2 linked regions of the Homo sapiens genome follow. The gene in region 2 interacts genetically with the main gene of each other region. Each region holds a gene or a part of one and is shown on either strand. Other genes may lie near its edges. The genes, in order: CTNNB1 and CALCOCO1.

What was found.
Region 1: of CALCOCO1 (region 2) and CTNNB1, changing one enhances a phenotype caused by changing the other (phenotypic enhancement), as found in Homo sapiens cells (one study listed by BioGRID).

The regions. Positions count from the first base shown.
Region 1 is NC_000003.12:41,200,798-41,215,967, forward strand, and holds part of CTNNB1 (catenin beta-1), read left to right. Parts: exon of another isoform or gene 1-1,591; intron 1,592-2,259; exon of another isoform or gene 2,260-15,170. UniProt on the Homo sapiens protein: Key downstream component of the canonical Wnt signaling pathway.
Region 2 is NC_000012.12:53,707,656-53,722,825, forward strand, and holds the end of CALCOCO1 (calcium-binding and coiled-coil domain-containing protein 1), read right to left. Parts: intron 14,529-15,170; coding exon 14,370-14,528; intron 13,961-14,369; coding exon 13,812-13,960; intron 12,175-13,811; coding exon 12,084-12,174; intron 8,761-12,083; coding exon 8,605-8,760; intron 8,393-8,604; coding exon 8,138-8,392; intron 7,671-8,137; coding exon 7,545-7,670; intron 7,039-7,544; coding exon 6,943-7,038; intron 6,587-6,942; coding exon 6,478-6,586; intron 6,246-6,477; coding exon 6,046-6,245; intron 5,552-6,045; coding exon 5,445-5,551; intron 5,192-5,444; coding exon of another isoform or gene 5,120-5,191; intron 4,467-5,119; coding exon 4,289-4,466; 3' UTR 862-4,288; downstream 1-861. UniProt on the Homo sapiens protein: Functions as a coactivator for aryl hydrocarbon and nuclear receptors (NR). Recruited to promoters through its contact with the N-terminal basic helix-loop-helix-Per-Arnt-Sim (PAS) domain of transcription factors or coactivators, such as NCOA2.

The sequences.
Region 1 (15,170 bases), on a different chromosome or scaffold from region 2:
ATGTAGTTGTTGCCTTCGTTCTCTTCCCTTTTGGAGGGAGCGTTGTCTCCTACTTTGTATCTTCCAGACATCTGTGGTCTTCCCCCCACCCCTCGAGTTTGTGAGTGGTGAATGAAGAAAGACTAGGCTGCTGGTATGCAGAGGTCGGCAAAAGGAAATCGAGGAGTGGTTTTAGTGAAATGAGAGCTTTGTATCATGAATAATGGTGGCTTAGGCTAGACATCAACTTGAAGAGACGGCAGCATTTCCTTTCATAAAGTCTAGGCTAATGTTTTTCAGATCGCTAAGTTGTAGTTTGTCTGGAATTTAGGAAGCCATTTCAGTATTTGTCACTTGGTGAACGAACATTCAATACCTTCAGATGTCTTCGTGTTGACTTGTATTCATCCTAAGAAATAGTAAATATAGTCTCAAGTGTTATTTATGTTATACTGCTGGTTTATTCTCTGCTTAAATTATTGACATAAATTTCTACTTTGGAGGCTTTTCGTTTGAACTAAGGCTGTGCGGAATTTATTTTACTTTTATATTTAAATCTTTGAAAAATCTCTGATTAAAAAAAAAGTACCCTTAAAGGTTTGAGGATGTCCTTTCACACCAGACAAAATTTGGTTAATTTGCGCCCAATATTCATTACTTTGACCTAACCTTTGTTCTGAAGGCCGTGTACAAGGACAAGGCCCTGAGATTATTGCAACAGTAACTTGAAAAACTTTCAGAAGTCTATTCTGTAGGATTAAAGGAATGCTGAGACTATTCAAGTTTGAAGTCCTGGGGGTGGGGAAAAATAAAAAACCTGTGCTAGAAAGCTTAGTATAGCATGTAACTTTAGAGTCCTGTGGAGTCCTGAGTCTCCCACAGACCAGAACAGTCATTTAAAAGTTTTCAGGAAAAACCAACTTAAAAAAAAATAAGGTGGCTAATTAAAAAAAAATGAAGCATTTAACAGTGTTCAGGTTTCAGAGTATGGAAGAGGGGTTTTTTAAACTGTTATCTGATTATTTCTTTTACCAACATGATATAGAAAAGTGTATTTCCAGTATTAAAATTTATCAGACTGAGCTTACTGTTCCTGTTAATGACTGGAATAAAAATTGGCATAAATGAGGGTCTGTATGCTTGTTTTAATAACACCACCACCAAGATAGAAAACGAGGAGGCAAGTTTCTCCAAGGGTATTTTGAAATGTGTTAGCAAAACTATTGCAGATACTCGTTTTTGTTATAGGGTGAGGTGGGGAGAGGCGCATGCTAAGTATTGTTGAAACTAGGGATGTAGAGAATTAAAAGTTTGAATATAATTATTTTGTAGTTATAAGTAGCAGTGAAATTAAATCTCCTGCAATAGACTATAGAAGTATATTTAGCCAAATGAAACTTCAGTGTTATTGAAATGAAATAATACATCTGTCCTGTTACAAGATTATTTTTATTTCTCTTGTGGTTTCCTAGCTTCTGATAATCAATAATTGTAGATGAGTAGGTGGTAAGTTTTAAGTTTGTACTTTGAGCTTAGTCGGAAGCATGCTTGACTGCCAACCCGGGGCACAAAGGATGAAGGCTTTTAGAACTGGACAAACTTCTAACAAAAGGTATTTGCAACTCTTTTGTAGTGTGTCATGTTGATTTGTGACATTGTTTTTGAAAATATGTGTTAACTTAGTTTTCTTGTAGCCCTCTTTTTATTGGAACTGTGGTATCTATTGTTGAAACTGCTTGACTGAGAACATTTTTATACCATAAAAGTAAATAGTAAACATAGCCCAGGAGCGGCTTCTGGTTTGTCCATCGTATGTAGCCATTGCCTCCTTGTACTCTCATTGAGAAGATACTGATTTGCAGATTCAGTTGTCCTTCTCTAACAGACTATTTATGTAATATTGCAGTTGTGATTGTGATAGGTAAGTGGACCAGTCGGTTAAAATAAATACTCAGGTTTCACAAAAGGAAAATAATATGATTTGTGTTGATCTAAATGAGTATAGGAGTTAACTCCTATAGTTTTTCATCACTTAAACTCAGGGGAAAGTTCTTTATTTCCTCTGTTTACTTAAGAATGCTGCTTTTGTGTTTCATGCAAGACTGAGCTTGACTCAGTTTGAAACCTAGGCTCATCTGTTGAGGCCTGAACCCTGCTGTCCTTGAAGTATGCATATAATTTGCTTCCTTCCTAAGGAAAAATAAGCTCTTGAAAGATAAAGTCAATCACATTAGGAACCCATTTTTAGGGTTTAGCCACTTTTTTTTTTTTTTTTTTTTAACTCATGGGCATCTCTTCTGTTAAGAGACATTCCCCACTCTCCAAGTTTCCCTCAAGCCTGAAGCAGCAGAGTGAGTAGTGTTGGAGCATGTTTTCATTGCATGCTTGGGTCATGTTGAGTGCCCTCCAGTGGATATAGTATAATGCTTGTGATTTTTTTTTTTTTAATTCCAAACAAGTTTATGTGGGATATATTTAGGAATAGTTCTGATGAGGGAGAATCAACTAAGAAACCTTTGATTTCTAAAATAATTAATATCATTACTGCTAATTAAAATACAGGCTTGAGAAAATGTCTTCTCAGCCAATATTTGCAGTAGAAAAGTCGGGAGGTTTTTTAAGGTCACTTTGAGTAGGCAGTTCTGCTTAAATATATCATAATGATAAACCAGAATCTCAGTATAGTACTTTAGGAGGTAAAAGATCATAATATTCAGTTATATTGATGAATTACAGCAACTGAAATTCTCAGAAAAAAATTAATGAAAATGTGAATTGTCAATTTGTCTAAAATCATTCACAGAGTAAAACATAAGTGCTCAACTTGATTATATTAGGAAATAGATAGAAATAAAGGTAATTGAGCCAGTGTATGTGACCTAAAATATAATGCCCTTAGTGACCATAGGGTTGGTCTCATTTGTACATAGTGGTGGGCCATGATGAACTGTGTTTTGCCCTTTGAATTTTTCCTTAAAAAGCTTTCTCTAGGCTCCTATGTTCATGGTTTTTCTGTTAGTAATATTATTTTCTGAAAATCCATGTTTCAAATCAGAATCTAATTAGCAACAGGAATGAAGCTTATTCTAAATTAGTTTTTGGAAGTTAAACGGTCAGCATATGGAAATTTTTCAGGGTTTAGATTTTTAAAAATTTGTTTTTCAGAATATGTTGCTGGAATGAAAACGTTAGCGTAGGGACGGAAAATGACACTTACCAGTGATTGCTTTACTTTGCCTGTGGAATTCAGTGTAATTTTGTGGAAACATTGGTATATGATTTTTTACTACTTAAGAAATGTATTGCTATAGTTAGGGTTTTTTTTTTTTTAAAGGCAAGAATGCCTCAAGTGCTTTATGTGAATGATTATTTCAGGATGGATTAAATATTCCTCCATCAAGGACCATACTTGTAAATCAGTGATTTCCAAGTTGGTGCTTAGTATTTACAGCATTTACTGTCTATAAGCTTCTGTTCTGATTTTTCAAGAGTTTTCTGAGAAATGAGAGTAGGCTTAAAAGTTCTTTGAAAAATTATGTACATACAACTTACTGAAAAAAATTGCTACCGGGGACTTAATTTGTCTCTTGAAATGGGCTACTTGCCTTCATTAATGTAGCATACTACAATTTGATGTTCAAGATATGTTACTAAGAATAAGATCGCTTTCAGAAGCCTTATATAGGATTGGTCTTACTACATTGTAGTGGGAATGGCTACTCAAATGTCTCCAGGGCCAGTTAGGTATTGGGTAAATGGGACCATGCAGACTATTAAAAATTGAAGTGCACATGAAGCAGCCAGTCATAAGCAGCTCCAGCCACTGTGTGGGAATATAGTTTATGTTGCCAGATCATCTGATTTCTTTCCCCTAAGTGGGAAATCCAGATCAATGTACATCTCTTGATTTGCAAGTGTTGGTGAACAAAATTCATATTTTAAGATGCTGTATTCAGCACAAATTAAATACACTTATTTGCTGAATACTGCCAGTTTGTCCCTCTGCAGTAGTACCATTTGAAGTACAGTGTTTTCATAATGATTCTGTGAAATGACTGGTTCTGTGAATGTACATAATTTAGCAGATAACATTGTTAAATTATTAGGTTTGTATTTATTTAGGCACTTGGGAAATGCCTTGTGTCAATTGATTATAGATTAGGAGCTTAAAAGCAAGATTTATATTATCAACTTATTTGTGAAGACTGGGAAACCCACATTTTTAAAGTTAGGAATTAAGATGGCCAGGTTCAAGGAAAAGGGGGAGAAGTAACTTTCTTATTACTCAACCATCTTAAATAGAGTTCTTTAAGTGTATTTTTAAGAGGTCTCAAAACTTAATCTGAAGGGACGTCAAATGCTGGACAAATTCTGTGTATACAACTCAAGTCAGCCCCCAATTTTACTGGTCTTTAAATCATGTCCTTTTTACCAGAAGTTTGCATTTCTAAGCTAAACTATTACTGTTAGACTAGATCCAAAACTTAAAAACAGTTTAGGTAATTAAAAATTAATTGAATATAAACGTTTTACTTAAATTAATGGCAAATGGCTTTTTGGCCAATTTAAGTTTATGTAGGCAGTTAAATCGATTTTGGTTAAATCTTTTGCTGCTAACAAGGTATTTCCAGATTTTGAAAAGTGGGGTGGCCTGGTGCCTGTAGTACCAGCACTTTGGGAGGCTGGGGAGGGTGGATCACCTGAGGTCAGGAGTTCGAGACTAGCCTGGCCGACGTGGTGAATACAAAAATTAGCCAGGCATGGTGGCAGGTGCCTGTGATCCCAGCTGCTTGGAAGTCTGAAGCATGAGAATTGCTTGAACCTGGGAAGCGGAGGTTGCAGTGAGCTGAGATCACGCCACTGCACTCCAGCTGGGGCAACAGAGCGAGACTCCATCTCAAGAAAGAAAAGTGGGGTGTTTAGTCTTCAAACTCCGTGTTTAAGTGACTGGAGTGAAAATGTAAATCATAGGCCGGTGTTGGTTTAAAAAGCATCATCTGAAAATAATGCTGTAGTCTGCAATTATTTTTATTACGATACGATGGTGTAAAATACAAGCAGATCAGTGAACCATTCATGAAACATTAATCCTAAAGGCGTCTCACCCCAAGTCTATCCCACAATCTCCATGAGACTTCGTGGAACCACTGTAAAGTTTCTTGTGTAATATCCCAGAAGTTTCCTACCTCTGGTATCTTTTGAACTTGTTGAAAAGGCTTTTCCACCCCCTCTTTATGATGGTTTGAAGAGTGTGAACATCTGAATGATGCTGGGGTGAAACTGCTTCATAACACTTCCATTTTCTCCCCTATTTATTTCCATATTTTTATTTTTTCACTAATATCCCCACGGTTTTACTTCTGTTTTAGTAATTCACATGTTGCTGGACTAATTCTTTTTAACTGACTTGTAACAGATATGTTAAACCGTTTAAAACTTGGGGGGTATTTTTAACCTACTTTAAGTTAGTTCAAGTTAATCAGTCTACATGGCATATAAACCTTATGATTAATAAATCTTAAATGCTGGTAGCTGAGTTGGAAGCCAAAGACGTACAAAAAAGCTGAAGTGTTAGGTTTAGTGTGATAAGCTTCTCTTACTAACAGGGTTTTGTAATAGCAGAAATAGATATATGCATATATATGTGCATATATATAGCATACCTTATTGGATGTCCATATAAAAATGTGTAAGAAGTTAAATTTACTGCAAAATTTCTTGGGAGTGCAATTTGAAGATGATCTTAAGTGGTGATAGTAGTTTGCTACACTGGGGGATAGTTGTTGCAAACTGCTCCTAATTTTCCTTTACTGTGAAGTAAACTGAACAGCTGTAATAGGGATTAGGAACTGTACTCCCTCTCTCTCTTTTTTAAGTATAATTAAGTGGTTTTGGGGTAAGGGTGTAGGGAGTGAGTGTCTTTGAAGTTTTGCATATACTAGATGAATGCCACATGTATAAGGGAGGAACAAGGGATTCTTGGAAATATTTTTCAATCCAAGTAACTTTGGAGGCTTCCAAGTGGAGTTCATTCCCCTGTGTAGGAAAGTGCTGGGGTAGACCCTTAAATTCCTTTCTGAGCCATTGAAAGAATGTCCTCAAACTTCGCTTATACTTTATAGTTCATTTAGATACAAAAGTTACAAACTGAATGCTATTTAGGAAACGTAATACACTGACATACCGCTCTTTAAATAGATTATAAATTTAGTATATCAATTTTCTGGCATTTTGCTGAATTTTATTGTTTAGTTTTCAAGCCCAACTATCTTGTTACTTTGTATATCGTAGTTGTCCCCCGTTGATCACTGTTTCCTGCTTAATTGTGCTGTCGTTTTTCCTGGGTCCTGATTCAGAGTGTCAGCATTCTGTTCCCCATAGAATAAGAAGAGGCTAGAAAGTTTACAGATGAGATATCTAGGAATGCCAGAAGATCAGGGGTCACCGTTGAGGCAGAGTAATTAATTATGGTTAAAATGGTGTTGCTGATAAGTGGGTGCTGGGAAATAATTAAAATTTGATTTTTTAGAAGAATACTTCTCATGCTTGAAGAGCGCCCTCATTATATGCTAAAGGGCCTCAGGTTTTTCCTTATTGCCATTATGCTGCAGATTCTATTACATTTGTCTGAAAAGATCTAAGACAGAAGGGCTGTTTAATACCTTCCCTTTTCTCCTGAACTTCCCCTCTCCTCTCCCCCATCAGGAGCTAAGTAGGAACCCCTTCACCTTGTTACCATCAGATTTCATCAATGGTCTGTCTTTACAATGAAGGAAGTAGTACTGCATTCTGGGCAGAGGCCAGTCCTGAGGCATGCCTTTTCAAGGACATTGTTACTTTAGTTACACTGGCTCTTCTGTTTTAACTCTTATCCCCCAGACTCTAATCCTGTTGCTTTTTTTGGTCCCCATCTCCCACCTTTCATCATCTGAAATCCATTCATTGTAACTTCTGGAACTCAGTCGTTAGAAAATCCTTTATATTCTCAATCTTGTGAATGTTCCTTTCTTTCTTATTCCAGCTGTAACCTAGCCTTCTCCCCAAGAATGCTACTTCCCTTGCAGCTCTCTCAAGTGGTGAATTTTTCCCTTCTTGCACACCTTATAACACTGAACTAGGAGGTGTGTGGACTAAATGTCTGCTTTTGTTCCTTATTGTCACTTCTTGACCTTTATTTTCCAAAACTTCAAGCTTTGACTTTCATGTGATCAAATTATACCACCCACTGCCTGTCTTTATTTCAAGCACCTGCAAACCTTCCTGGGTCATTCACATCCTTCTTTGTTCACTTCATTAGCTCTTGGCTCATTGTCACTGTCTCTTATTTCTGTCATAATTCTTGGTGACATCAGTATCTATGTAGAGCAATACTAGTGAAGATGTGGTCTGGTAACTGTTACCTGTATGAATTAAGATAAGGAGTTATGCCAGAATATAAGTCACCTGTGTCACTAAGTTTACTGTTTAGCTTACTTTTTTTGTAGCAAGATTTTGATGAAGGACGCAATATGTTGATTTACAGTCTGGTACAAATTTTGATGTAGAAGATGCTTCCAATATCCTGGTCTCTTAGTTCCTTGATTTCTTCTCCAGTGATCTTATTTTCTACCCTAACTCAACTACATATTCCCATTGTCATATCCTAGAATATTTTGTCTTTTATCTGTAACTCTGCTCTCTTCCCCCAATCTCATTTCAAGCATCCCACTTTCTAATTCCTCTAGTAAATACGTCAGTTCCAACAGCCCATCAATCCCATTGGGACCTACAGTTTATCTATCCAAGCTTTTCCCTGTTCCTCACCCTCACTTCTATACAGCTGAAGTTTCATACTGAATTATAATCACTTTCTCGTATACACGTTTAACAATCTTGTCCCTCCCTGGCTTCATGCCCAGTGATCTCTTGTATCTATGACCATGTCCTTTATCTTCTCCTCTGTCACTGGATGAACTGTAGCCTTCCAAGATAAGGCCACTCAGTTCATTTGTACAGCAGATTCCATCCCCTCTTGCTCTCAAGAATATTACTGTGGTATCTCTCTTTTCTTGTCTCTACTGGCTCTTTCCATGAGCAAACATGGTATTATCCCATTACAAAAAAAATTTTTTCTCCGTCTCTCCTTCCACTCACCACCTCAGTCTCTGCTTCTCTTTCCCGCAAAATAACCTTGAAAAATTGCTTTATGTACTCCCGTTTTCTTTTGAACCCCTGCCAGTGACCACCACGTTATAAATTTGTAGTTGTCATCTCACTTAATCTGTTAGTAGTATTTGGCACCATTGCTACAGTTGCTTGAAATGCCTTTTCATTGGTTTCCAGGCCACCATGTCTGTTAGCAGCTTTTCCTCTTACTTCACTAGCATTTCCTTCTTTGTTTTTTCTGTTATCTTTCTGACCTCTGTTGGAGTGGCTGAAGGTTTAGTCCTTGAATCTTTTTTTGTTGTGCATATTTACTCCAGTATCATAGCTTTATACAGATGGTATTTACATCTGTTTGCTAACGATTTCCAAATTGGTATCCTTAAACTGGTATCCAGCTATTTTTTGGTCAGCATTTTGGATGTCTAAGAAGCTTCTCAAACTAAACTGACCTCCCGGTTTTCCCCAAAGCTGCATCTTAGTCTTTTCCGAAATGCAATTCTGTCTTTCCAGTTACCTAGCTTAAAAGCTTGCAGTTCTTGACTCATCTTTCTCTCATACCACGTATCTGAATTCTCTCTGCAAAAAATTGTCTGTTCTCCCTTCAGAATAAAGTCACGTGTCATTTTATGATGGGGATACATTCAGAAATGCGTCATTAGGAGATAATCATGGTTGTGTGAACATCAGAGTATACATAGACAAACCTAGATGGTATAGCCTACTACACATCTAGGCTATATGGTGTGGCCAATTACTATGATGAATACTGTAGGTAATTGTAACATAAAGGTAGGTATTTTTATCTAAACGTATTGAAACATAGAAAAAGTACAGTAAAAAATATGGTATCAAAAATAAAAAATGGTACAACTGTATAAGGCAGTTGTGATGAATGGAGCTTGCAGGATATGTTGCTCTGGGTGAGTCAGCGAGTGACGATTGAGGGAACGTGAAAGATGTGGGACATCACTGTACACTACTGTAGACTTTATAAACACTGTACACTTGGGCTACACTACATTTTTGTAAGGTTTTAAAAGACTTTTTTCTATAATAAACCTTAAATTACTGTCACTTTTTTACTTTATGAATTCTTAATTTTTTAAACGTTTTCACTCTTGTAATAACACGTAGCTTAAAACATACATTGTACAGCTGTACAAAAATTTTCTTTATATCTTTATAAGCTTTTTTATATTTTTAAAATTACTTTTTACCTTTTAGCTTTTTTGTTGAAAAACTAAGACATGGGCCAGGCGCGGTGGCTCACGCCTGTAATCCCAGCACTTTGGGAGGCTGAGGCAGGCGGATCACGAGGTCAGGAGATAAGAGACCATCCTGGCTAACATGGTGAAACCCCGTCTCTACTAAAAATACAAAAAATTAGCCGGGCGTGGTGGCGGGCACCTGTAGTCCGAGCTACTTGGGAGGCTGAGGCAGGAGAATGGCGTGAACCCAGGAGGCGGAGTTTGCAGTGAGCCGAGATAGCGCCACTGCACTCCAGTCTGGGCGACAGAGCGGAAACTCCGTCTCAAAAAAAAACAAACAAAAAACTAAGACATGAACACATTAGCCTAGGCCTACAGAGGGTCAGGATCATCAGTATCACTGTATTTCCATCTCCACATCTTGTCCTTCTGGAATGTCTTCAGAGGCAGTAAACATAAATGGAGCTGCCACCTCCTGTGATAACAGTGCCTTCTGGAATACCTCTTGAAGGACCTACCTGTGGCTGTTTTATAGTTAACTTTTTTTTTTTAAGAAGTAACAGAAGGAGTACACTCTAATGATAAAAAGTATAGTAAGTACATAAACCTGTAACAATCATTATCATTATCAAGTGTCATGTACTGGACATAACTGTATATGCTATACTTTTTTTTTTTGAGATGGCATCTCACTCTGTCACCCAGGCTGGAGTGCAGTGGTGCGAGGATAGCTCACTGTAACCTCAGACTCCTGGGCTCAAGTGATCCTCCTACCTCAGCCTCCCAAGTAGCTGGGACTACACCAGGCACCCCACCATGCCTGGCTAATTAAAAAAAATTTTTTGTAGAGACAGGGTCTCACTCTGTTGCCAGGGCTGGCCTTGAATTCCTGGCATCAAGTAATCCTCCCACTTTGGCCTCACAAAGTGCGAGGATTACAGGTAAGAGCCACCATGTCTGGCCCACTGTACTTTTATACAACTGAAGCACAGTAAACCTACTGTGGTTTCGTTTACACCAGCATCACCACAAACACCATGAGTAGAACATTGTGCTGCGACGTTAACGATGGCTACAACATCACTAGGTGATAGGAATTTTTCAGCTCCATTATAATCTTATGAGACCACTGTTGTATGTGCAGTTCATCATCCACTGAAATGTCCTTATGTGATGCATGTCTTCATATCCAAAAATATTAATCATTTCTCACTGAAGCCATGCCATGCCATGCCATCTTTTGCCTGTATTATTATTTTTCAGCTTTTATTTTAGATTCAGGGTGTACATGTGCAGGTTTGTTAGAAAGAGTATATCGTATGATGCTGAAGTTTGGGATACAGTTGAACCAGTCACCCAGGTAGTGAGCATAGTACTCAATAGATAACGTTCTAACATTACTCCTCCTTCCCTCCCTGTTCTTGTCTCTGTCTATTGTATCTTTATGTCCATGTGTACCAAATGTTTAGCTCATTCTTGTGAGAACATGTGGCATTTGATTTTGTTTCTGTGTTAATTTGCTTACAATAAATAGTCTCCAGCTGCATCCACATTGCTACAAAGGACATGATTTTGTTCTTTTTTATAGGCTGCATCATATTCCATGGTGTATAGGTACCACATTTTCTTGATCCAGTCTACCGTTCATGGGCATTTGGGTTGATTGTATCTTTGCTATTATGGATGGCTTTTGCCTATATTATTGGAAAGGCCTTCTAACTGGTGTCCCTGCTTACACCGTTTTCCCCCTTAAATGTGTTTTCAACATGGTAGCCAGAGTAACCCTTTTTATAACAATAAATCGTGTAACTTTTTTGTTCAGAAACTTACAGGGCTTACCATTTCATTCAGTAAAAGCTCAAGCTCCTGTATAGTCAGACCATATCCTTCATCACCTGTTACTTTTCTCCTCTGACTCTTCAGCCTTTTTGTTTTTCCTCAAACTGATGAAGCCTTCATGGCTGATGTCAGATGTTTTGCCCATTGAGATCTTCCTTGTTGACTCAGTTGCACTTGGTCATATGATTTTCATTTATTTGGGGTATCTAATCATAATCTGAAAGTTGGCTACTTATTTTTACCCCTTTGAGGGTCCTTGCCCTGTTTTTGTATCCCTGATAGCGGGACAGCCAGATATCTGGAACTTACAGGTGTTCAATAAAGTTTTGTTGAATGAATATTCTGGAATCACCCAACCTTTTTTTTCCCCTCCACTTATTTTTCTTCTCCCTTTCACGGCCTGAAAGATGTCCTATGTATATGGTTCCACTTATCACTCTCATCCCAGTTTGTGATATACTATTCCATTATATTACTATTATTAATACAATTCCATTGAACTTGCTCTTGCTGACTTCACCACTGGACCTACATGTTGGCCAAATGGATACTTTATAATTTTAGTCTTGACCCCTGCCTTTGGCACATTTCTTACCTCTAGCACAGCACTGTCCAGTAATCCACACTTTCTGAGACAGTGGAAATGTTCAGTATCTGTGCTGTTCAGTTGGTAGCAACCAGCTACCCATGCCTATTAAACATTTGAAATGTGGCTGTGTGACTAGTGGCAATTATGTTGGAGAGTACAGTTTTAGAAACTCCTGTTTTTCTTACATGGCACTACATTTAGTATCACAATCTAATTGTGCAAGCCAGATAGGTAGGAGTCATCTTTATTCCTGTTATTTAATTTTTCTCATCTACTATATCCAGTTCATCACATCAACAGCGCCTGTTGTTTCTACCTCCTAAATATTTCTTTAGTCTAACTACTACTTGTCCCTAGTGCCACCACCATCTATCAGCTGGAATATTGCTATAGCTGCCTTACAGGTTTCCCTTCTTTCCTGTTCTCTTCTAGTTTTTTGAATTTTAGTCAGCACGAGATTTTAAAAACTCAAATAAGATTGTGTTATTCACCTGCTTAAAACCTTTCATGACTTTCAGTGTCACGTAGAACAGAAAACACTTTTCTTACCAAAGGCTAGAGAGCTCTACGTGATCTGGCTATTTTTAACGTTTCATTGCACTCACCCTTTTCCTCTATAATCAAACTACTCTGATCTCAAGGGTTAGTTCTTGAAAGATGATCATGTTCTTTAATGACTTTAGGTTTTTGTGTGTTATTTTCTATTTCTGGGATGTTTATTCTCTGTTCCTTACATGCTGGCCCTTTTGCATCCTTCTTCAGGTCTCAGCTTACATGTTACCTTCAAGAAGCCTTTGACCACTCTAAGTGGGCCCTTCCTTCCACTTCTGCTGTGTAATCCCACTCCCTTCTCCCACTTGTTAATTAGTTACATACTTTTTTGTAATTGTTTATTTGGTTGCTGTCTCCCTCTCAAGAATGCAGGGACCATGTCTGCATTCTGCAGTAATCACTACTGCACACCCAGAATCTATTACAGATCCTGGCATGTAGCTGATGCATAAATATTTGTTGAATGAAAGTCTGTACATTGTATTTATGCTATTGGTATTGCTATGACCTGAAACTAAAAGGAGTTGTGGAAAAGATTTCTTATGGAACAGAAATATCCCTTTTGATTAATATCACAATCTCGTAAATTGAGAAAACAAAAAAATATATACTACTGGAGCATTCATGTATAGTTGGAGATTATGACTCATTTATTGGTGTGTTTTTGGACTCAGAACAAAGATGAGGGAATATTCCTTAAAGCTCTGTATTGAAATAACGAAAAGCAGTCACATTTTAATAATAGAAGCTTCCTAGCTTACTCTTTCTGTAATCTTCTTTTCCTAAATGTAAGAGAGCCTCATAATTATGAGGCTTATTACTAGAGTAAGGCTGTCAAAGGCAGCAAAATGTCTTTCTGTTTGGAAGAATAACATAAACTTGACATGTATGGTGGGGGACAGAAGGTTTCAAAAGTTTAAGAATCTGTGTTGTCTTAACAAATAGATGCTTCTCAAGGAGCTTACGCTAGTGGTTACTCTGTCCAGTCAGGGTTTTTTCTTCTTTAACTTGGGTTCATTTCCTGATGGCACACATGAAGTTTGGATCATATGGTTTGACTTTAGCTATGGTCCTTAGCTATGGGGAGCAGCATCAGCGACCTGTGACATGTAAATTAAAAATACAATGCCAGGGCCCTTCCCCAGCCCCTCTGATAGAGAACCTCTTGGCCATCTGTATTTTTAGATGTTCCAGGTTAGTCTGATTAACACCCTTGGTTAAGAACCATTGGGAGGATCTGATTGCCAGTTTAAGGGGACCTTCAAGCCTGTAGGTCTTTATAGTTAAAAAAAAAAAAAGATTTTAAAAATCATGCATATGTTGTGGCTGAATTCTGGTTTAGCACATACTGCTTTTAATGGCCTGAAATGTTTTTCCCAAATAAATTGTCTTGTTATAGCTTTCATGTGTGATTTGGTCCAGCTTCTTGTTTTGAAGATACTTACGGGGGGGAACACTTTGTGATTTCTCTTAGTAACATATTAACCCACTTAAAAACCCTTTCTATTACAGGTCTTCACATTTAGGCTTAATGTGCTTAATTCAAATGTAAAAATACACCTGCCTTTGTTCTCAGTGAAAGTATGTAATAAATAAATGAGGGGTTGGCAAACTACTGCCCACCATCTGTTTTTTTATGGCCTATGAACTAAGAATCGTTTTGGATAGCTAAAAAAAAAAATCAAAAGGATAATTATTTTGTGACGTGAAAATTATATGAAATTCAAATTTCAGTTTCTGTGAATGAAGTTTTAATGGAACACAGCCATCCATGCTTATGTAAGTGTGCATATTCTCTGGCTGTTTTCACTGCAATAGCAGAGTTGAGTAGTTGTGACAAAGAGTTTATGGCCCACAAAACCTAAAATATTTACTTTCTGATGCTTTACAGAAAAAGTTTCCTGAACCTTATTCTAGCTATATGTTGTTCATAAATGAATCTTTCGTGGTTCTGAAGGCATTTAAGAATCTCTTAGGTTATAAATTGGCTGGGCGCAGTGGCTCACGCCTGTAATCCCAGCACTTTGGGAGGCCGAGGCTGGTGGATCACGAGGGCAGGAGTTCAAGATCAGCCTAGCCAAGATGGTGAAACCCTGTCTCCATTAAAAAAAAAAAAAAAAAAAAAAAAATAGCTGGGGTTGGTGGTGGGCAGTAATCCCAGCTACTCGGGAGGCTGAGGCAGAGAATTGCTTAAACCCAGGAGGCGGAGGATGCAGTGAGCCAAGATCGCGCCACTGCACTCCAGCCTGGGCAACAGAGTGAAACACCATCTCAAAAAAAAAAAAAAAAAAAAAACACTCTTAGGTTATAAATAATTGTTGTTAGCTCTCCAAGCCTCCATATTACATTTTGTGTGTTCTCCTGTTCACATTTTGAGCATTTTATTTTTTATTAGCACATTCAGTTCATCAGGTATTTAAGAGCTTAATATATGCCAAAGCATATATTAAGCGAGAAGCTGTTTCTAAATGTACTGTCTCAGCCCTCACAGAGTTCACTTCATTAGGCTCTTTAAAATTTCTTTCTTTAAAAGGTCAGCGTGCTGGTATAGTGGGGAAGGGAAACTCTTACAACACGTCGAGTAGAGGAAGGTTATCATTATGGGATATAATTTGGAAGTCATTGAGTACCTGCCATTAATTCTGCCTGTAGTCTGAATGTAGAGATTAACATGTAGAAACTTTTTTGAAATAAAATCTTCAATTTCTTTGGCATATCTAGTACTGTCTAGCTAGGCATATAGTCAAAGTATGGTGTATATTTCAAGTATTAAAAGTTTTTTTGGGCTGTAGTCACTGTTGAAAGGATATAGTTCTTTACTATTACATGTGATACCTTTATATAAAATTGGCTAACCC
Region 2 (15,170 bases):
GGTCTTGAACTCGTGGGCTCAAACAACCCTCCTGCCTTGGCCCCCCAAGTTGCTGGGATTACAGGTGTGAGCCACTGTACCTAGCCAATTCCTATTTTGTTCATGCAGCTTCTCCAATATCTAGAACAGCACCTGACACATAGTGGACACTCAATTAATACTTGTTGAGTGAATGTATGAATAAATGTCAGCAGTTCACCTTTCCAGCCTCACTTCCCACACTGGGTTAAGATCCTCACTTGGCAGCCCTACCTGAGTGTATAGACTTCTGAGTAAGTTGTCTTCGCATATTTTGTTCTTTCTGCCTGCACATGCTTGGCTCACGTCTACCCCACATTATCACCTGTGGGAAGCTCTGCCTTCCCCAGTCTTCGTTAAGTATCTGCCTCTCTGTGGTCCCATAGCATGCTGTGCATACCTCTAAAGTAGCATTTATCTTGTTTCCTTGTATCTGGTGATTTATGTCAACTAAGAGCTCTTTGAGGGTGGGGTTTTTCACTATTCTATCTCCATTCCCCGGCACCTGACCCATACAGAGCACTCTACAAGTATCCTGATTTAATAGAAACATCTCTATCCCCCAGCCTGACCAATATGGTGAAACCTTGTCTCTACTAAAAATACAAAAATTAGCCAGGGATGGTGGCGTGTGCCTGTAATCCCAGCTACTCAGGAGGCTGAGGCAGGAGAATCGCTCGAACCTGGGAGGCGGAGGTTGCAGTGAGCTGAGATCGCACCATTGCACTCCAGGCTGGGCGACAGAGCGAGACTGTTTCAAAAAAAAAAAAAAAAAAAGAAAAGAAACACCTCTATCCCAAATGACATCATATTTTGTTCTTTGAAGCAACACATGGCACTTCATTTAATGGTATTGGTAATATTTATTTGAAGCTAGTTGGTGAGCTCAATGATGTTCACTTTATTATTCATTACATATATTATTTTGTATGTATAAAACATTTCATTAAAATAACTTAAAGATTATTTCTGGAGGACTGGTCCTATGTTCCAGTCTCTATACTAGATTTTAGGAACACAGTGATGTATAAGCATAGAATCTGCCTTCAAGTTGCTTACAGTTTAGGGAGAATAAAAAGTTGTAAACACATGTAGCATCTTTTTATAAAGTGCTCTACGTGGTATGTCAAAGGATAACTGAGGGCAGTCAAGTAAGGCTCCATGTAGGTGGTATCCTTTGAGCTAGGAGGAAAGTAGTGTATGTTTTTGTGGAATGGTTCTGTTATACTGGAGTACAGGGTTCCTTAGGGTAGATGGGAAATGGAAGGGCAAGTTGGGACAGATGGTGAAGACCCTGACTGGCACACTAAGCAATCTACATTTCTCATTCCTGTAGGTAACAGGTGGCCATTGAGGTTCGATAAGTGGGGGAGTGGTGTGTTTGGATTCGTTCTTTCACCACCAAATACTGACGCGAGTTCCTATTTGCTGCTACTTGGCTGACATCTCCTTTCACATTAGAGTCTCAAGCCCATTCAGATCTATCGGCTTTTGCATGGATGCTGGGGAGCAGGGAGGAAAGGGATGATCCATTATAGAAGAGAAATAAGTAGAAAGGCTGAGTTGCCAAATACCCCTCAGTGAGTAGGAAAGAGAACTAGAATTGGAAGCTGGCTGCCCCTGGGTTTCCCCCAGCCCATGCCGTCAATTACCCTTCCTTGAGCCCCCTCTGTGTCGGGGACCATGCTTTGGATACTGGGATAGGCAAACCATGAGTAAGGAAGAGAAATGGCCCCACATTTTGTGGCACCCCCAGTCTGAAACTGCAAATTGCATGCCAGAAAGACACACAAAGGGCAGAGAAAGGAGCAGCTAGAAACTCTAGATATCCATGTTGAGGAGCCTGGTGGGGGGTTGGGGGGCTTCATGGAGGAGGGGAGTATGAAGCAGATTCGGGACAGTGAAGCAGAACAGGGCTGGAGAGAAAGGAAGGAGGTGAGAAGGACCCATGTGAAGTTTTCGAGGTTGGAAAGAACAAAACCTATACCGCAGTCCTCTTAAGTGCTTTTAGTCTGACAGTGTCTGTATCAGTGGCCTTGTGCAGCTAGCCATGTGGCTCCTGTGGGTGTATGTGCGGCTTGGCAGGGGCTGTGGCATGGGAGCAGGGGCCTGGGTTCCTGTTTGTCTACTATTCTCCTTTTTTGCACAAGGCAGCCACTCACTGGAAGCCAGGAGGTGTGGGTCCCAGATTCTTCTCGCCCCAACCTCCCCCAGAAAATAAATCACACATGATTTCATTAAATGCACCTCCTGCTGGGGATGTTGGCTCATAATTCCTCTCTGATTAACCCCCACTACCCCGGCAAGTTTATAGGCCAAGAGAGGGAGAGGGAGAGGGGGGAAGGTAAAAGGAGGGATGGGGGGAATCCCAGGCGGGTGATGGATGCCTCTGTCAGCCCAGCTCGTATTTATTAATAGTCTTAATACGGGAAGCAATAAAGGAAGAGAGGGATTCTATTAATTAAATCATTGTTATAATTAACTTTCATTAAAGGAGGATCAATAAAGAGGGGTTGGGATGGAGAGAGGAGAGATCCATTATCTCTAATTTCCTTGGAAGGGATTCAGGGAACGGGATGGGGTTGCTAGGAGACGGAGACGTGAGGGAAGAAGGAACGATGTAAGAAGTCATCCAGGTGGGGCTGGAAAGGGGGTGGACAGGAGCATTTCAGGTGAATGGAGAAAGGGAATGGTGGGGGTGGTCCACACAGGGGCCCTGAAGGGAGAGGAGGGCAGCTGAGAAGGGAGCTATTGGGTTGGAGGACGAGGGGGTTGTAGGCATGTGCTTGTGCAGGCCATTGCTGAGAGCCTTGGTGAGCGTGCAGGTCCTTAACAAATGCTTTACGATGCTGTGTATGTGTCTGTCTAGCCTGTGAAGCTGGTTAGAGTGGATGAATGTGTTTTTGTGACTGTTGAGGCAGAGTGTGCATACAGGTATGAGGGGATGGCAACAGAGAAAGAAACAGAAACAGAAACAGGAGGAATATAAAATCGCCTTTAGAGGTATGAGGCTTAGGGCATTTTTTACTAAGTAGATACTCAAAGGTGTACGCTCTTGACAGGAATAAAGCCTGTCCTTTGGCATAAGGTACAGTGATGGCTGCTATGAAGGGTGAAGTTCTCGGCAGTGGGAAACTTGTCCCACTTTTCCATGGCATGCACCCACCCTGGGACTAAACCCTGAGCAGAAGTGACAGGGACCCATGAGTTTGCTCCCTCCCCAACTGCCGCATTATCCAAGCCAGACTCCCACTTGAGACAACCCACTCATGGCCAGCACACCAGGAGGCACGACAGGACAGTAACTGCCCAGCATCCCCTGCCATGAGGCAGGGATGCGTCCCCTCTTTCCCTCCTCCCTCCACCAGGGTCTAAGAGCTGGAGGTCTGGGCCCTGTGTTCCAGTCACACCTCATGATAAGAACACATTTTGTGACAACAGTCATACATATCATATAAATATATTTGTTCAAACTACAAAGGGATGGATATCAGGGGGAAGCTTTTATTGCTGTGGGGGGACCTGGAGAGGGAGGGGGGCCTTGGAAATGGGGATACCTGGGACCACTTGTTCCCCCCATTCCTCACAGAAGGCACAAATACATTATTTCTTTCCATGTGAGGAGATGCGAGGAGAGGATACAGAATACAGGAATCCTCAAAAATACAAAAAACCCCTCCAAACTGAATACCTAAGGTTATGGAAAAGGCTAGGGTGGGGCACAGAAGTCAATGGGGGAACAGAAAGAGGAACCAATGAAACTGAGAACCAAAAGGGACCTGAGAGGCCATGATGTCCATGCTGCTGCCTCTGTGCAGACCCCAGAGAAAACTCAGGTAAACCAACGGAAACTCCAAATAAGAGAGGGTAGGGTGCCCCAGGAATTGGCTTTGGGGCATCAGACAAGGGAGTGTGAGTGTGAGTGTGTGTGTGCAGTGGCTGTGTATCAGAAGCAACCAGGGCTAGGAGTGGACGATTCTATTCCCACAGGGGAAGGCCTCCTCCATCCCGGTTCCTCCAAAACCACTTTCAGGGGATAAATTCAGCCACTGCTTCCGAACAGGACCCCTCCCTGGGACAAAAGAGCCAGGTAGGAGAGGATGAAGTGAGAAATCTTGGGATGAAAACAGGGCACACAGAAGCAGTTCTTAGGGAACAGAATATCATGGAGCCCAGTGTGATAGAAAATGGGCATGAAACCTAAGTGTATGCATGTGTGTGAGTGTGTGTGTGCATGAGTGTGTATTTGTGCATGTACGAGGGAGTAAGATCACTCAAAGGTGAAGGGGTCCTGGGTGCTGAAAAAGAAGTGTCCATCCATGTGGTCCTCCAGGGCATCCTTGTCACTCTCAGCAGGAAAGCGCTCCTTACAGATAGGACACTCCTTCCATGTGGGGGTGGCAGGGCCCCCAGTGCTGGTTTCTGACAGGGTACCCACTGTAAAGCCACTAAGAGAGACAGAGGGGAAAGGGAGAGGGTCGGCGTGCTCTGTTCCCTTCTTGACTTGCAGACTTCGGAGAGCAGGACCCATGTGCCTGGGTTCCCAGGTTATCCTGTGCCTAATGCAGCATCCTGGCCTCTCCCACAGCGTCTTTCTCCCCACAATCCTGGAAGGCTTATTTTTCCAGTTCCCCATGTCCTCTCTTCTTTAGTCCCTGCTGGTCTCTGCAGTGCAGAGCCCATCCCCCAGCCTCCTGCTCTCCTCCCTCCATCTCCGTCTGCTGCCTAATGAGGCTGAAAATGAGTCTGACATCGTCCTTCATCTTCCTGCTCCAGCCGAGAAGGATGACAGCATCACCCCCTCCCTGCCCTGAGCCCATCTCACATCCAGGCAAAACCGGGACTAGATGATCAAATCTCTCTTCCCTGTGCCTGCCCCCTTGAACCTGGGAATAAAAGGGAAGGCAGAAGGGGACAATCTGATACCTGAAACCCCCACCTCTATAGGTTCCCTTCCCTAAGGGTTACCCAGGGAAGTCAGGGAAGAGGGAAAGCATTTCAGTTGTAGCCAGATGGATGCTGGATCCCAGTCTTCTCTCTGCTCCTATCCCTGGGGGCCATGGTCACCTCCCTTCCTCCCCGGAGGACCCTAGGTACCTACCTGGTGGTTGGGGAAGGGGTAGAGGCAGGAGAGAGGGGAAGCAGGGCAATTTGGGCTCTGCAGAAGATGGTGCTAGAACAACATAGAAGCCAGTTAAAGGCAGGACCTCTGAGTGCATTGATAAGATAGGGGTAGGGATTACCTGAAGGCATCTGGGATTTGGAGCAGTGAGTCATTTTCCTTGTTAACCATACCTGTATCTCCTTTTCTTGGCTGAGGCCAAGAAGGGCAGGGGTTGGGAGCAGGGCCTGGTGACTGTCCACACAGATGCCCTTTCCCTCTGACCTCCTCCCACCTCCCTCCTGGCCTTGCTGGTTGAACTCACCTGGCCATGTCATAGAAGGCACTGCCCAGTTCAGGAAGCAGTAAGTTGGCCTCCTCACCCCCACTCTGCACAGCTGCCATCAGGACTGACTTCTCATCTTCAGCCTCCTGGATGCCAAAGAGACAGGGTTGGGCTTTGGGGTGGTGTCCCAAGATGGGGGAGCAGCACATTGGGACAGGTATGGGAAGAGCAGCCAAGGCTAGGACAGTGACCTGAGGGGCTTAGGAAGAGTGAGGCAGGAGAGGCGTTTTGAGGGGCTGGTGAATAATAAGAGAATGACTGTGGGGGAGAAGCAGTGAGGCTATTGGGCTGGTCTGGGTTTTGGGATGATATCTACTGGTGTGGCACTGAAGAGAGGCTGGGCCTGCCTCCTCTCCCCTGGGAAAAAGAGAGCCCTGGATAGCTAAGATTCCTTCTCTAATTAGCCGGGGGTGCCTGCCTGTGGTCCCAGCTACTCTTGGGAGACTGAGGTGGGAGGATCGCTTCAGCCCAGGAGGCAGAGGCTGCAGTGAGCCAAGATCGTGCTGCACTCCAGGCTGGGACACTTGGGTTTGGCCCTGCCCCTCCTTACTGCTTCTGCACAGGCTCCTCCACTGCTCACCGAGTCAGAGCTACTGTCCTCAGCTGGCCCAGAGAGGTGAGGAGAAATGGGAGCCGGCTGGCTGATGACAACAAGGGGAGAAGCCTCTCGAGGCCCAGCAGGAGAGGAGCCTGGGTCTCCACGCTCACAAAGGCCATAGGGTGGGAGCCTCATGTCTTCTGGGGACTCGTCCTCTGAGTCTGTCAGAGCTGCCGGGCAGCCTGTAGGAGATGAAGCAGGCAGAGAAGAAAAAAGGATGTGTTGTGAGGAGTTGGACCAGCTGTCTCCTCTGGATGAGGGGTATCATTAGACTAAACAGGGGCCAGGGTCTGGGAAAGAAAAGGCAAAACACATAGAAGGCAAAGGCAGCTCCCAGCAAGGTTACATGGAGCCTTCCTCAACAGCGGGAGGTAGAGTGGGGAAGAGGTGTTACAAGATTGGGGCTACACGGACTCAGCCCCACAGCGGCCTCCTCATCCTCTGTGGTGGCATCCTCATTCCACTTCTCATCTGCCACCTTCTCCAGGCGGGCCTCTAGCTTTCTCATGTACTCTAGCAATTCCTGGAATTGGGAAGGAAAAAGGCAGGTGCTAGAGAATGGGAAGGTGCCAACCTTGCTAGCCTGCAGAAGCTGCACCCAAGAAGAACTCTTAGCTCCTCAGCATTAGATGCCTTCAGCAAAGATTGGGGCAACTTCAGGCAGACACTCCCCCCAGCACCCCTGCTTCACCACTTACATCCCTCCCTTCTCCCAGAGATCATCCGCTGTCCTGCCAAATCAGCTAATAAGAGAAGCCAGGGTACGGGCCCTCTTGGAGAGAACAGTTTCTAAGCCAAGAGATGACAGGAATTTACAAAGTTTCTAGCCCTCAAGTCCTCACCTGTGGCATCCACGGGGCCTGGGTTATGGGTGCTCACCTGTTTCTCCTCCTGTAACTGCTCCTTTTCCTTCTGGAGCACACGCAGGGCTGACCGCAGCTCTGTCAGCTCCCGCTTACTTTCTGACAACTGTACCTGAGGGAAGAGGGCCCAATGGAATCTGGAGCCTAGAATGTACCTCCAAGAACCTGGACTCTGGGACCAGGACCAACAATCTAGAACCAGGTCTCCCCATGCCTCTGCTTCTTCCCTGCTCTGACACACACACACAGGAATTCCCAACACTTCCTCCATGAGTACTTTGTCTTGGGCCACAGATACTCAGTTTTCTAAGTCTTAGTCTCTGCCTCTCGAGTGGGGACCTGCATGACTTCCTCTAGGCTGGGGTGCAGAGGCCTTGGTCATACCAAGGGGCCACTCTATAATTCTCCTAAGTCACCTCTACTGGGCCCAGATGTGTGCCCTGAGAGCAGAAAAAAATGCACATTTCAAACCAATGAGGGCTTGCGTGTGCAAGTGAAATGCCACCCAACATGGTAGTGGACACCTAGCACTTCTGAGCCCATACCCAAGACAGAGAGAAGGGGTATGGATGCCTCAGGAGGCCATAGGACAGGACCCTTGGTGGCTGGATGCCTCACCAGGCTAGAATCCTTCTCCCGGGCCAGCTCAGTCTTGAACACTTGGTTTTGGGTCCTCTCCTCCTGAACTGCCTTCTCCAATCGAAGTATCTCTGCACTCAGCTTCAGGATCTTGTCCTTCTCTGCCTGAGAGATAGCCAAGAAGGAAAATGGGAGGGTGGAGGGGGAAGAAAAAGGAACGCCACTGTCAACAGCACCATCCCTTACTGTGTCCTTTCCTTTATTTAAAGCATCATTTTTAGAGCACTTTCCCCTTTTTGCCTTCATTTCCTATACCCTCTGAATGAAGGACAGGACATGACGGCAGGTGCTGCTTGATCAGGAATGGGCATTATGGCAGGGCCTGGGGTCTAGGACAGAAAATGTTTCTGTTCCAAGGAAGGTACTCTGGTGATCAGGATTGGGATACCCCGGTTAGGGATGGGTCATGCCTAGAAAGTAAAGTGTACCTCCCTCAAAGCCCCTCTCCACCCAAGTCCTCTAAGGTTCTCAACCCCTCTTCTCTCCTCCCAGAGGGTCTGACCACATGTAGGAGTCCCCACAGAGGTGGGGGCAGTGGCCATCAGATTGCCAGGTACCCCCCATCCCTCTACCTCCACACTCTGCAGCAGCCCTGCCCGCTCCTTGCTCCATTGGCATTTTTCTTCCTTCAAGTGCAAACCGAGCTCAGCCAGCCTGCCGTTAACTTCAGCCACTTCCAGGCGGCTGCGGTGTAGTTCGGCTATGGTGCGGTCCCTGGCTGCTGCTGCACTGGCCAACTCCTCCCCAAGAAGGGTGGCTTTCTGCTGGCTTGAGGCTGCAAGCTCCTGGGCCCCTCGAAGCTGCTCCTTCAAGGGCTCCAGCTCGGCCTCAGGAGAAAGGAGGAGATGGAGATCAGAGTTCCTAGTGAATCATTCATCAGCCAGGGAGGTAAACGCTCCCTCCACTCCACTGCATTAGGACTCGGGGTTGTGTTGTTTAGTCTTTAGCCATGTCTCTCCCCTTCTCTTTAGACACGCAGGCTTCTCTACAACTTGCCCTTGGAATTTCCCGTTTCCTGTTGCCAAGGGGCCTCACTCACCACCCGCTGCTGGGCCTGGCCTAGGGTGTCCTTCATCTGGGCCACCTTGTCTTTCAGTCGCTGAGCCTGAGCACTCTGCTCCTCTTGCCAGCTCTTCGCCTCCTTCAGGTCCAAATTTAAGTGATGGTTCTCCTGTTGTGCCACTTGGAGCTCAGCCTGAGGGAAGTGGAAAGCAGGTAAGGAAAGGGGTATGTGTGTTGGGGTGGCTCGGGAGGTGAACCATTGTGATGAGAGAGGTCAAGGTTCCACTTCTCAGATTTAACACACACTCAAGCCTTCAGCTATTGCCAGCCCTTCTTGGGTTCTCAGCTCAAATAACTCAATCCTGCATATCCAGTCTCCAGCTCCCAAATTGAGGTATCCAGCATCGCAGCCTTGGGTCTTCTGTGTAGGCATTCCATGTACCATTTCTGCTACTCTATTCTTTCTCTTAAATCAAAACTCAGTCTTCATGCCCTACAGGCCCCTTAAACTCAACAGTCTACCTCTCACCCCATCCCAGTCTTTCCTACTCTTATTTCCGTCCAGGGTACCAACTAGCTCCCACGTTACTCAGGATGGAGTAACCTGGTGCCCTTGGTGCCATGCTTGGCTCTGTCCTCTCCCTAGCGGCCCACAGAAAAACCTATTGCTTCTCCATCCTGGTCACAGCCATTTTCCCTTCTCTATTACCACCACAACCACGTTATCTCAGACTCTGGTCATTTCTTGCTTGGACTACTGAATAACTTCATAAATAGTTCATTCTCCACAAGGGAATCAGATTATTCTTCTTTAGGTACAGTTCTGATTCTTTAAATACAGTTATTTTCTTTTTTAGAGATAGGGTCTGGCTCTGTCGCCAAGACTGGAGTGAAGTAGCATGGTCACAGCTCACTGCAGCCTCCAACTCCTGGGCTTAAGCAATTGTCTCAACTCAGCCTCCCCAGTAGCTGGGATTATAGGTGTGTGCCACCACGCCTGCCTAATTTTTGTATTTTTTTGTAGAGATGAGACAGGGTCTCACTATGTTGCCCAGGCTTGTCTTGAACTCCTGAGCTCGAGGGATCCTCCTGCCTTCACCTCCCAAAATGTTGGGATTACAGGCGTGGGCCACTACACCTGGCCATAAGTACAGTACACGTCACCCCTGCTTGAAAAATCATCAAAGCCTTTCACGCTTGTGGAATAAAAATGAAGCTCAAGATCCACCACAGTCTAACCTAGGCCTTATCTCAAACACTTCACCCGCACATTCAACTGCCCTGAGTGTTCTGGCCTTTAAGCCTTTGCTCACGTCTTTCTCTGTTCCTAGAATAGCCTCACACTCATCTCTGTCTACTCATATTCTACCTATTCTCACTGCTGAGCAAAGGGTTTTTTAACAATCTTCCACATAAACCCAGGGTACTGAAGAAGGGATTTAGGAGTTCTGCAGATACTTGATTTGAATGTCTTCTAAATTATTAACAATTATGTTAAAAAAAGAAAAACAACACAAGGCCAGGTGCAGTGGCTCATGCCTGCAATCTCGGCATGATTTGGGAGGCCGAGGTGGGCGGATCACCTGAGGTCAGAAGTTCCAGACCAGCCTGGCCAACATGGTGAAACCCCATCTCTACTAAAAATACAAAAAATTAGCTGGGCGTGGTGGCGGGTGCCTGTAATCCCAGCTACTCAGGAGGCTGAGACAGAAGAATCTCTTGAACCCGGAAGGCAGAAGTTGCAGTGAGCCGAGATCGCGCCACTGCACTCCAGCCTGGGCAACAAGATGAAACTCCGTCTCAAAACAAACAAACAAAACAAATAAAACCCATAAAATCACAAGTTAACACACTGGAGATCACCAATTGACATATGTTTCCAGGTTAATTCATTTTTTTGCAAAGCTCAGAATAGTTTCTACTGTATTTTCTATTGAATTGAAGAGTAAACTGAGTTGCAAGGTGGACAGTTTAAAAATTGTTATTTGCACCTACTTGTGTGTGACTCAAGGTGTTCTTGATATTGTACAACCAAAATAAAATACGGAAATACATTAGTTGCTGAGGCTGGCAGAACAGTCTTCGATAGCCTCTCATTTCAAAGTTTGGTATGCCTCAAAATTACCTAAGTGCTTTCATTACCTTTTAAGTAAAGGTTATACATTCAAATTTATAAAAATAAATTTATAGTAATAAAACATTGTTTTTGTTTATTCAGTGAGATTCCACACAAGATTAAAAACTTTATTGGTGGGAGGAGAGGAAAGGGTTCTGCTAAAAAGGTTTGAAAGTACTAGGCCCCACACCCCACCCCTTTTTTTTCTGAGACAGAATCTTGCTCTGTCACCCAGGCTGAAGTTCAGGGGTGCGATCACAGCACACTGCAGCCTTGACCTCCTGGGCTCAAGCAATCCTTCCACCTCAGCTTCCTGAGTAGCTGGGACTACAGGTGCATGCCACCATGCCTGGCTAATTTTTAAAATTTTTTGTAGAGATGGGGTCTCACTACGTTGCCCAGGCTGGTTTTGAACCCCTGGGCTTGAACAATCCTCTCGCCTTGGCCTCCCAAAGTGTTATGATCACAGGTGTGAGCTACCACGCCCAGCCATGGCCCTCCCTTTTTTTTTTTTTTTTTTTTTTTTTGGCACAGAGTCTCACTCTGTTGCCCAGGCTGGAGAGCCGTAGTGTGATCTAGGCTCACTGCAATTTCTGCCTCCCGGGTTCAAGTGATTCTCCTGCCTCAGCCTCCTGAGTAGCTGGGATTACAGGCACCTGACACCACACCTGGCTAATTTTTGTATTTTTAGTAGAGATGGGGTTTCACCATGTTGGCCAGGCTGGTCTTGAACTGACCTCAGGGGATCCGCCTGCCTCTGCCTCCCAAAGTGCTGGGATTACAGGCATGAGCCACTGTGCCTGGCCTCCACACCCATTTTAAAAAGACTTTTCTAATGTCTCTAACAAGATGTGTACTCATACACCTCCCTGGAGCTCCACAATACTTTATTAGATTTCTCTTGAGGCCAGGCGCAGTGGCTCACACCTGTAATCCCAGCAATTTGGGAAGCTGAGGTGGGTGGATCACTTGAGGTCAAGAGTTCGAGACCAGCCTGCCCAACATGGTGAAACCCTGTCTCTACTAAAAATACAAAAGTTAGCTGGGCATGGTGGCACATGGCTGTAATCCCCGCTGCTCAGGTAACTGAGACGTGAGAGTTGCTTGAACCCAGGAGGCAGAGGTTGCACTGAGCTAAGATCGTACCACTGCACTTCAGCACAGGAGACAAAGTAAGACTCTGTCTCCAAAAAACAAACAAAAAAAATTTCTCTTGTGACACTCTTATATTCCACTTTTCCACTCTGACTAATCCTGATTTAGGTATATGTCTTATGTTCCCTAGTAGAGTGCACACAATGTCTTCTTTACATTTTTATTCCCTTTGGTGTCTGGCTCTCGAGAGGGAATCAAACACTGGCTGGACAATGGAGAAAGCAAATCAACTCTGAGCCCCTTACCTCACTTTGCTCCTTGTCTGCTTGTACTTCTTTCAGTTGCCCAAGGAGCTTCTCTTGTTCCCGAGTCAGGGCCTTCACTGTGTCTCTAAGCCTGTGATTGGTGGGATGACATGTCAGACAATCTGCTCCACCCAGAGAAGGAATGGACTCAGGCCTCTGTCTTGTGCTCTGCTGCTGCTGCTCTAGGCCCAGAGCTCCATTTCACTCTGGGATGCATAAATCCCCAAGCCAGCTGATCCAGTTCTAAGCCCCAGGAAACCAAGATTCCAGGTTCTAGAGAACAATTTAGACAGAAATAGTTTTTCTTATCTTTTTGTGTAATATTTTAAGGAATGTTTTGCTGATGGCTCCCATTGTTTTCACTCAATCAAGAGACTAGAATCTAGTCTTTTTGAGACAAGGGCAGTCATTATTGATTATAAACTTTTGATCTAGACCAGAAGTTGGCAGACTCTTTCTGTAAAGGGCCTGATAGTAAAGATTTTATGCTTTGCAGTCCATGTGGTCTCTGTGGCAACTACTCAACTCTGCCATTGTAGTGCAGGACCATCCATTGACAGTATGTAAACGAATGAGCATGATGTTTCAATAAAACTTGAACACAGATTTGAAGTTCATACAACTTTCACATGTCACAAAATATTCTTCTTTTAATTTGTTCTTAACCATTAAAAGATGTAAAAACTATTCTTACCTGTGGGATATACAACAGGTGGCAGGCTAGATTTGGCTTGTGGGCCATAGTTGTTGACCTCTGGTCTAGATAGCCCCTAATCTTTTCCAGATGCTCAATCTGACCACTGCTTTTCTAACCTATGACTTAGAATGTAGACATCTAATATCTCCCTAGGGTGAGACTAACATATCCTGAAGAAGCCTCTCAGACGAACTCACTTATTACTTTGGGCCTTGGATAGAATGCCTCTTTCTTTTAAACAGTTTTTTAAAATATCACACCTACCAGTAGTAAATGAAACATAATTTTGTCATTTAATGAAATAAGGAACTAGAGTGTTTAAACTGGTGAAAATTTGAAGGATGGACATGGGAGGTGGTGGTTAATATTTATGCTACTTGGTAGAGAAAACAATTTTCTGGAAGAAGAAAGAAATTTATTCTGTGTGGCTCCAGAGGTCTCAGGACCCCCTGGTAAGTTATAGGAGAGGAGAGTTTGGCTCAATACAAGAGATACAAAAATGACAGCTGTCAAATGTTAAAGAGGCTGCCTCCTGAGGGTGACCTCTTACATACCCTCATACATATCTTACAATCCCAGTGCTAAGAGTTTATGATTTGCATCTTTTTTTTCCAGGGCAGAGATTCCATAACATTCCTGGATCACCAGTTATAATGTTTCTTAATAGTAAGAACACAGTCTAATCTTATCTTTCCTGTGGCCACATCTGAAATCCATCCTCTCTTATCTTGCACTGACTTCCATCCATTCTCTTCTTCCAAATCCTCCACTCCTAGCTCTTGCTCAGCTTTTGCTGTACAATAAGTGGTAACTATGATTATTTCTGAAGTGGAGGAATACAGAATAGCATTTGGAAAGATGGTAGAGAGCTCGGCAGAAAAGGGTATCCCCAGTAACTAGCTTGAGTGAGGGTGAGAGGGAAAGAGAAAGCGTGTGAGGCAGACAGCAGGTCTGCTTGCCTGAGAGAGGGGGCTGGAGTGCGGGGGTCATGGAAGGGAGAGGAAGTGACGGGGTCAGTGGACTCCCCTCACCTGTCCAGCTCCACTTCCTTCGTCAGCACTTTCTCACTGATGGTCTGGATGTCATCCTCTAGCTCCAGGATGCGTGCCACATGGTCTCCCTGTTGCCGGCTCAGGATGTCCCTCTCTTCTGTGATCTCCCCATGGGACCGGGAAATCCCCTGAAATTAAGTTTCCCCCAGAAGAAAAGGGAGGTTGGGACTCATCTCTCAAGTGGTGGAACAAAGGCTTAGGAAGAGCACACCAGGGTCTGACTGCTTCCACCTGGCTATCACATTGCCTTCCTTGAAAAAGAAACTGTAAGGGAACATTCCCTTACCTATCAACGTGGCCACCTCCACCTTACCCCAGCATTCCTATGTTCAAAGAACTGAGTCTCATTACACGTTTGGAACATGTCTCTTGTCACATCAAGTTTAATCCCAGCCACTACCCCTTAAACCTATTTCCTTGATGCCAGAACCATTGTAAAAGCCCACTAACATCTCTCCTTCACCCTCTTCACTGGGTTCAGATTTTGGATGCTGGGTGAGCAGCCAGGCCCTGTCCCCTACCTGGCCCAGCTCCCACCTTGTACTGTTCCATCAGCTCCGTGTGCTCCTGCCTGGCAGTTGCCAGAGCCCTCTCGAGCTCCTGCACTCGGCTCCTCAGCTCTGTCACCTGTCCCTCCAGCTGTAGCTTCAGCTGCATCAGGTCATTCCGTTCTTGCTGGCTCTCATCGAGCTGGTTCTACAGGCAGCAGAAGGAGAAGGGGAGTGTGCTGGTGGAGTACCCCTTCTAAGGTCCCATCCTCACCACTCTCCAGGTGCATTTTGGGTTTGGGAAGTTACATAGCTTTGGGTTATAAAGAGGTGAGGAAGGGGATGCTCAGTGTGCTACCGAATCCCGTCCACCACCCAGTCAGATGCACCAGCTCATGGCACTCTGAATTGCCCATCTCTCTTACCCCTCCCCACTCTAGGCCTGGCCCTTTCCTCATCCAGCAATTGCAGGAATCCCTCATGTGGCACAAGTCAATGAACACAGACACAAGGGATGGGTCCCCTAATTTTACCCTATCTGCTCTGGAGTTGGACAGACTTGGGTTCAAATCTTCAGTGCAATTTTTACTAGCTATGTGATTTTTTTTAAAGATAGGGTCTCACTGTGTTGCCCAGGCTGGAGTGCAGTGGCTAGCCATAGGTGCAACCATAGCATACCATACCTCAAACTCCTGGCCTCAAGCCATCCTTCCACCTCAGTGTCTCCCCCAGTAGCTGGGACTACAGATGCATGCCACTACACCCAGCTAGCTATGTGATTTTGAACAAGCTTCTTAACTTCTCTAAGTCTCTGTGTCCTCATCTGTAACATGATCCCTTAGTCTGAATT